2 separate regions of the Homo sapiens genome follow, and region 1 is linked to region 2. The links come from fine-mapping of genetic effects on gene expression. A gene starts in region 2. The other region holds a variant in brackets. All regions are shown on one strand. Distances are from middle to middle. Region 1 overlaps MAML1 (mastermind like transcriptional coactivator 1). Region 2 holds the start of MAML1 (mastermind like transcriptional coactivator 1).

The links. PIP is the estimated chance that this variant, and not a neighbour inherited with it, causes the effect.
Region 1: its variant is the best candidate, but not a certain one, in a credible set for the expression of MAML1 in whole blood (INTERVAL, PIP 0.78).

Annotation. Positions count from the first base shown.
Region 1 is chr5:179,761,713-179,765,971 of GRCh38, reverse strand. It overlaps MAML1 (mastermind like transcriptional coactivator 1), which reads right to left. Exons shown (of 5, transcript NM_014757.5): 2 at 1-646. Among named protein-coding and RNA genes, the nearest start is that of LTC4S, 30 kb to the left of the region's middle. The variant AT/T (reference allele first, on the strand shown) is at 2,516.
Region 2 is chr5:179,730,934-179,735,185 of GRCh38, reverse strand. MAML1 (mastermind like transcriptional coactivator 1) reads right to left here and starts at 2,364. Exons shown (of 5, transcript NM_014757.5): 1 at 1,759-2,364. The coding sequence starts at 2,073. It overlaps CANX (calnexin), which reads right to left. Exons shown (of 15, transcript NM_001746.4): 15 at 3,545-4,252. RefSeq lists silencers at 1,772-1,831, 2,072-2,271 and enhancers at 1,460-1,960, 2,722-2,821.

The sequences.
Region 1 (4,259 bases), 31 kb before region 2:
ACCCGGCCCTCACTTGTGGAGAGCCTAACTGTTCTTGCTCAAAGGCTGCTGGAGAGAATTCCGTCTTAATATTAATGTCCTGTGCCAAGGGGGTTTGTGTGGCAGAGCCAGAAGACTCTGGGTCCTTCTTCTCCTCGAAGTCCTCATTAAACAGGTCCTTCATGTCTTCATCGGGCACCGACCTGTTCAGCTCCTCGATGAGCTCCTTCCACTCCTGCTCGTTAAGGTTGAGGTCTGGCATGAGGTTGCTTTGCGATATGGAGCCGACAGTCCCAGTGATCATGCAAGGCAGGTCTTCGACAGGCTCCTGCTTCAGTTCTTTATTCAGGCTCAGAGGAAATGACTCACTGGGGTTACTGCCTCCATTCAAGTGAAGGCTGGAGTCAGCCAGACGCTTTTTGTTGAGAGAGTCTAGCCCCAGAGAGTGCTTCCCACTGGACTGCAGGGCGTCGGCTCCAGAAGGCTTGTCAGACTGACCGAGGGGGGAGGCTGGAGGCAGTCCATTGGAAGAGATGGCAACTCCCAGAGGGGCCTCCCGGCGAGTCTTCTTATGCCCAGGAAAGAGGTCCCCGTAGCCATTCTGTTGATCGCCATTCTGAGGGGAAGTGGCGCTGTCAAGATTCCTCTTAACTGTATCATGAAGATGCTGAAAAACATTGAAAAGAATGACTTAAGATACATATGAATTTGCTCTGCTATGACAGTAACAAGCCAAGGGCTGATGTCCCTGCAATGCTCGCCAGTGGGTTCTGCTTGCATAGTGTACACTCCCATTTCTGGGGACACACCTCCATTTTCCCTGACGGTCCTATACCTGGCCAGTCAGAACTGATGTCTAGCTAAAGTGCTTCTGCAGTCCTCTTTCTGCAGGAGACAGGCATGAGGCTGCCCACAGCCATCTCGTCTGGCGGTATGCCCAAGAATGGAGCCAACAAAAAAATGCCAGAGAGTACACACACACACACACACACACACATATATATATTATATATATATATATGTTTTGAGATGGAGCCTTGCTCTGCCGCCAGGCTGGGTGGAGTGCGGTGGCACAATCTCAGCTAACTGCAACCTCCGTCTCCTGAGTTCAATCAATTCTCATGCCTCAACCTCCCAAGTAGCTGGGATTACAGATGTGCACCACTGTGCCTGGCTAACTTCCGGTATTTTTTGGTAGGGACGGGGTTTCACCATGTTGGCCAGGCTGGTCACAAACTCCTGGCCTCAAGTGATTCACCCGTCTCAGCCTCCCAAAGTGCTGGGATTACAGGCATGAGCCACTGTGCCCAGCCCCTCACTTTTTTTTTTTTTGAGACAGAGTTTCGCTCTTGTTGCCCAGGCTGGAGTGCAATGGCGTGATCTTGGCTCACAGCAACCTCCGCCTCCAGGGTTCAAGCCATTCTCCTGCCTCAGCCTCCAGAGTAGCTGGGATTACAGGCATGTGCCACCATGCCCAGCTAATTTTGTATTTTTAGTAGAGACGGGGTTTCTCCATGTTGGTCAGACTGGTCTTGAACTCCAGACCTCAGGTGATTTGCCCACCTCAGTCTCCCAAAGGGCTGGGATTACAGGTGTGAGCCACTGCGCCCGGCCGGCCCCTCACTACTTCTTATTGGGACTATTTGCTTGAACATAATCTGTCTGGTGTGACACTGTGACTCTGCTTCCCATCTGCTCCTCGATGGATTCATGCCACTGAAGTTATTAAGATTCTGCCTTGTGCCAGAGACAAGTGCTGTGGGGAACATAAAGACAAAGAAGACAGCTCCTCCTCGGGTGGGCTTTCAGGACATGGGACATACACAGACAGGGCTACAGAGTGAGAGCAGCACACAGTAAGTACCCTGGGAGTTCAGGGGCGGCGATTTCAAGATAAGAACATGTCAGAAGGGATGGGAAGGGGACAGAAGACGGACTCCTTCTACTGCTTCCTCACCTGCATGTGCTGCAGTCAGGACTCAACTCCACTGCTCAGAGGGAGTGCCTATGCTCAGCTTCCAAACACATGCTGCTCCTTTCCTGTGTTTACTTTATTACGTTTTTGTCCTTTATCCCCCACCCCCAGTACCATCCCCCCTTCCCATAAACCCTAAGCATCTATAGCATGTTATTAGAAAATGTTCCAAGTAACAGCCCTCATTATTATCTTTAGACAGGATTCAGAGGAGACGGGGAGCCCCCTGTGCTAGCTTCTCCGGCTGCAGAGAAAGGCCACCTGACTCTCCACACCAACCCCAGGGGCCCAGGTGAAGTGCCCTGGCCTGGGCGTCCTGCCTGGGGCAACTCCACGGGCATCAGTTCTCAACAGCAGATTACCCACTGGACACCAGGGAGGACCATTTTCTCAACCTCTAATCCCCAATTCTAATGTTCCTGTTCTTCTTTTCCCCACATCAAGATTTGCTTATTTCTTAACTGTTAAAGCTGACTACACAGTGCTCTATAAATCCTAGCCAAGTCAGTATTTTTAAAAATCCATATATGGGTAACTAAGTCGGTCTGAAAAAAAAAAAAA[AT/T]CGCAGGAATGCCTGACAAATGGAACTGCAGGGCAGAGGTAAGCAACAATCCTAGGATTCAGAACACCGCCCCACAGCTGCAGGACGTTTGCTTTACTTTCATGCAGGTTCTTCTGCTTTCTCCTGCCACCTAGGGGTGGAAGGGAACCACGCACATAAAATAGACCCTTTATAAAAAGCCATTATTTGAAAAGTTTTCCTTGTGGAAGGTAAATTCATACCCATTTAAATGGTCAGAGGAAATAAAAATTAGTTGCTAACATTTCCTTGATTTTCATCTTTTCTACCATTTTCTTTTGTTCCACAGTGCCAGGTCTGGGCTATCTGTAAACCTGGGAGCTCAGTTTTCCATCTTCCTAGGGGAAAAAGAAAGATGGAAATCTAAAGGGTCAAGGCACTTGATGAGTCAGCTGGTTGTCTCAGATTAGAAACAGAATCTTTCTTTGCCCTAACAATTACAAAAGCTACCACTCCCTCATTCAATATTCACATGCAAACAGCTGCAGACAAGTTCCAATGTAACAACTGAATTTTGTAATACCTATTGCTTTTAACCAAAGGAAACAGTAGGGCATTTTGTCAACTACTCACAAAATTTAACTGGAATAACGTAGACGGGGATAGGAGTGTGTAATGTGGTGGCCCCGGCAGATTTTTAAGCCCTGAGCATTTGCAGGAGTGTCTGATATGCAGGGCAAGGATGAGTGAGCCTTGGAGCCTGAACTCAAAGAATCACAATAGAGATGGGCAAACAGCCTGAACAGATTAAAAGTTATGTAAGAACAGACACAGAAGGTGCTATAAAGCAATACTAGACTGGCTGCCACGTATAAATACAGGAGCCTGCTCCAGCACATCTGGTACTTCTGGGTGCTCAGCTCAAAGGTTCCTGTTGTAACTACTGAAGAGTTTCTGCAGTGTACAGGGTTCCAGGAGGACCCAGTCCTGGGAGATAATATGATCAGATGCTCGTGGTCGGCTGGAGAACCACGTGTGCTCAGCCTTCCACCAAGACACCCCGCTGACCTAAGTCCCATCCTAGCCTGTGCCAGCTCCCTCGCTGGGAGGCCACACTCTCCAGGCGCCACCTGCCATCCTCTGCTCTGGGAGAGGAGCTCCAGGATACCACCACTGCTCTGAATCAAGCTGGAGCTGGCCACACCTTTTGGACTCCTAAGCAGCATCCTGTCAGTCTCTCACCCACCATGCACTAGCCTTATAGGAAGGATAATCCTTTGCCTATCTCCACTTCCTCCTTCTTCAACCACCCACCGCTGCACTCCCAGAATGCTTTGTGGCCAAACTCACCAAAAAATGACAATACCTACATGCTTCCACTCTGAGCTGACAGACACAGCTGCTGAAGACACGCGTGGTTCTTTCATGAGTGCTCCTTACACACTGGCAGCCAATGCCCCTTTCTAGCCCTACTCATCAGGAAATTTGCTTTTCCTCCTGCCTCCTCTTTTTTACCTCTTCTATCATCTTCCTGTCAGCCAAACTCCACCAGTTCCCACCCCTTAGAGCCAGCACCTTGATCTATGGCAATATGGATTACATTCCTGGCCAATCTGGAAATCAATGGGATGTGGGGAAAAGGAAGGGAGGAGTTGAGAACTGCTTTCTCCAAGGCCAGCAATGATCTTCCTACTGTTACACATAGGCCATATTTTCAGTCCTTCCTTTCCCTCTCTCCCTGCACTCCCTTCCTCTCCCTCTTATCATCTGCCACTTAATAATTCA
Region 2 (4,252 bases):
TATTTATTATTATCATACTTTAAGTTTTAGGGTACATGTGTACAATGTGCAGGTTAGTTACATACGTATACATGTGCCATGCTGGTGCGCTGCACCCACTAACTCGTCATCTAGCATTAGGTATATCTCCCAATGCTATCCCTTCCCCCGAAATACTGTATTTTCATGTCCACACTCATTTCTTTTTATTCTTAAAAGAATCCTGGGGGCGGCACGGTGCGGTGGCTCATGCCTATAATCTCAGCACTTTCAGAGATCAAGTTGGAAGAAAGGATCACTTGAGCCCAGGAGTTCAAGACCAGCCTAGGCAATATAGTGAGACCCCATCTCTAACAGAAAAAAAACTTTTTTTATTTAGCCAGGCATGGTGATGTGCAGCTGTGGTTGATCCCAGTTACTCAGGAGGCTGAGGCGGGAGGACTGAGGAGGCTGAGGCGGGAGGATTGAGGAGTCTTGAGCCAGGAAGGTTGAGGCTGCAGTGAGACATGACTGTGCCTCTGCACTCCAGCCTGGGCGACAGAGTGAGGGGAGGGCAGGGAAAGAACACGGGGCGATAATAAGCCCAACATGCCCCTAGTTTACAGATGAGAAAAGTGAAGATGAGAAGGCTTGACCAGTTGATACAATAAGCAATGAAATCTGAGTGGTTTTTTTTCTTCTAACCCAGCAATCGAGGCTAGTGTGGAAGAGAATGAGAAAAATAATTCAACCAGAGCAGAGGACCTGTGAGGGACATTAAAAGATAGGTTAGGTCAGACTGGTCCCAAATGCCAAACTAAAGACTTTGAACTTCATCCTTTCAAGCAAGAGAAGGATTTCCAGCATTTCGAGAATAAGGGAGAAAGAAACTAAATGCCTACAGACTGGTTAGTTAGCTAGGGACAGGCACTGCAATAGCCCAGGTGAGAGATAATAAAGGTATGAATTTAAAAATACACATAACAAATTAGATTTTAACATTGGTTTTAAACTAAAATCCCCAAGAAAACCACTGAAAAACCTTGTCTCTTTTGTAAATCTGTTTCAGGAAGAAAAACCTCTAACCAACAAATTTCAGGAACATTTACTGAGAGCCCAAAGGGAGTAATAATTGACCAACAATCTAACATCATCAGAGATTTTAAACAGGCCTGATAAATTAAAACTAGAATTGTCAACAATATTGCAGGAATCTCAAGTTCACAAAGTTCAGGCTACCTAAACAAGGAATACTTATATGCAACTCATTGAACATTTTACTAAGTTTTCCAAAAATTTCTTGATTTTCCATTCAGAGGAGTTTCAGTTGGTCAACCAAAGGCCGACTTATTTCCACATGAAAGCCCTGATCCTGCTCACAGCACAGGATCTTGTAAAGGGCAAGGACCCAATAAACATTTGCAGAATAAATGAGGCCAGGCCTACGGTGCAGGAACTCCCTCCATCACAGGCGACTCGAATGCTAGTCTATTTCGAATAAAGATCTCAACATCCCGGAATCAAGTCTGGAAGAAAAACCCTCCGGTTAGCGTTCGCCAGCCTTCCCAGGTCGGGCCTCCTGCAAGGCCCTCAAGGCGCTGTTTTCCCAAAGTAACGCCACCGTGCCACTTCCCAAAGATGACAACCTCTCAGCTCCCTGCCATGTTACCCTCTCTCCAGCCAGATCCAGGAGTCGCGGACGCCTGGGGAAGTCTCCCAGCGGCCCGATCCGCGTCAGAGGAAGCGTTTTCGGGAGAGGGGGCTGCCGCCACGACAAGCGCCTTCCCGCGCCCTACTCACCGTGGCCGGGCGGCCGTGCTCGGGGCCGTCAGCGGCGTCCAGGCGCGGGGCCGGGGCGGCGGGCGCCGGGGCCGTGGCGGCGGGCGGCTGCCTGTGCTTCCCGGCGCGCTTGGCCTTGGCCTGGATGCAGCGCTGGTGCAGGGCGAAGGTGTGTTGGCGCTCCAGCTCCAGGCGCTCGGGCGACACGGCCTCGTAGCGGGCCTCGCAGGTGCTGTGGTGGCGCCGGCACAGCTCGATGCGCCGGCGAAGGCGCTCCATGACCGCGCTGTGCCGCGGCAGCGCGAACTCCGCCATGGGGCAGGTGGGCAGCACCATGGGCCGCGGGCTGCACGGGCCGGGCCCGGGGCCGGGCCTCTCGGGGCCGGCTGGCACTGCGGGCTTCGCTCCCCGCGGCTACCCCTCTCCGCCTCACGGCCGCGCCATGCCCCCGAGGGCAGCGGAGCGGGCTCGCGCGCGGCGGCGGGTTTTCCTCCTGCCCCGCTCGGCCCGACCCCCAGCCGGCGCTTGCTGCCTACCTCAAGCCTCGGCCTCTCCCCACCGCCCCGGCCCCATTGTTTTCCGCGCTACCGCCGCGGCCGCCATCTTAAAATTGTTTTCGGGCCTCTCGGAAGAAGGCGGGGCCTCGGTAAGAGACCTTGTGCATCACGACTGATGAGCAGGGGCCCTGGCCAATCAGAGAAGGAAGAACCGGCCGCCCGAGGGCGTGGGGACGAGCACGCAAGAGGCGCGCTCGGGCGCCAGAGCGGTATTTAAAAGGAATTCTCAAGCGAAGGGCGGAGGGAAGCCCCTGGGCGGGCCTTAATCCTGGGGGCGGAGCTAAGCGTGACTGACAGGAGCCCGTCCAAGAGGCGGCTATTGGTTTCCTGCACAGCACCCGCTGAAGGCAGGCCCTTCCGGCTACCCCGAGAAAAGGGGAATCTGGCAGGCGAGTGCGGCGCAGCTGGCCAGTCCCTGTCGCCCGCCTGGCAGTACAGAGACCTTTTTTTTAAATTATTTTTTAAATTTCGACTTTGATAAACTCTAAGTAGCCACGCTATTTTAATGTCAGCCGTTTTACTTTGACCTTATTCCTTGTATCCAGCCCCATAATTGGTCAGAATCGTCTAGTGAGCTGGTAGTTTCCTCTTGCAACATTCCGAATCACTGGTAGTTTCCACCTATTTGTAAAAGCCCGAGCAAGTTTCAAAAGTGCAGTATTACTCACTACTTAAAAAAAAAGTCCAGAAGATGTGAGCAAAAGCATGCAAGAGTGCAGCTCCATTAGAGGGAACTGGAAATGCAAAGGACGACGTTTCACCACAACCACCGCCTTCCAGGCTCAAGCGATTCTCCTGCCTCAGCCTCTCCAGTAGCTGGGATTACAGGCATGCGCCACCACGCGCGGCTAATTTTGTATTTTTAGTAGAGACGGGGTGTCTCCATGTCGGTCAGGCTGGTCTCCCACTCCTGACCTCAGGTGATCCGCCCACCTCGGCCTGCCAAAGTACCGCGATTACAGGCGTGAGCCGCCGCGCCGGACCAAAAACAGTCCTTTAGGTAAAACTGAGTTACTCAACAAAACCAAACCAAGACAAATTATGCCCCATTATTAAAACTAATAGGCAAAGGGGAGTAGAGGGACTGGAGCAATCAAACAGTGTTAGTACTAAAACTAGATAGTGTGATGCCAAAGGATATCAGGAACTCTAGATATGGGCACTCTAATTGCTAAAAGGTTAAGCAGGAGGTGGCAGGAGGCTGCACATTGAGATACACCATCAGTAGTTCAAACATTCGTTACTCTAGCTTTTTACTAGGGCTCATGAGGTTTTATTTTAAAATCAAGAGAAAACAACAATCAAATATGTCTTCATACAAACGCAGCAGAAAAATACAAATCCTAATGTTTTAAATGGAGAAAGTGGGCCACCAAGGCAAAAGTGCCATAATGCAGTCCTGCTTTTTTTTTTTTAGCATTCAAACAAATTTTACACCAGAACTAAACTATTTCTTAATAGAAAAAATAGTAACTAGGAGCACTACATTCTGTGTACATACTTTTCTTTAGTATGTAATCTAAAAATTTAATAGCACATAAAAAACTGGGCTAACTTTCAAAAATACCCCTAAAGTATTTAAGTATATGTAAAATAATGGAGTCTGATTCTGAACAAATAATTTTCTAATAAAAATTTCAAAGTTCAATGGTTCCCCTAAGTCTTAAAGAATATTATCTACAAATTATCAGTAGCATTCCCTCCTTTTCTGAGCTGCTGTCCACACTATTATACAACAGAAACTACTGCACCGCAATCACATGGGCAGGAAGAGGCAAGGGCTAGACAGAAAAGACTGCATCAAACTCACGTGGTGAGATAAAAGTCATTATTTCACTGTCCATAATAGTTTCTGCCTAGTAGTGAACTCTCACATAGTGGCCAATTATACGAAGATCAACCCACTAATTGAACATAGTCACACACACACACTGAAGGTTACTATGAAGAAATTCAGT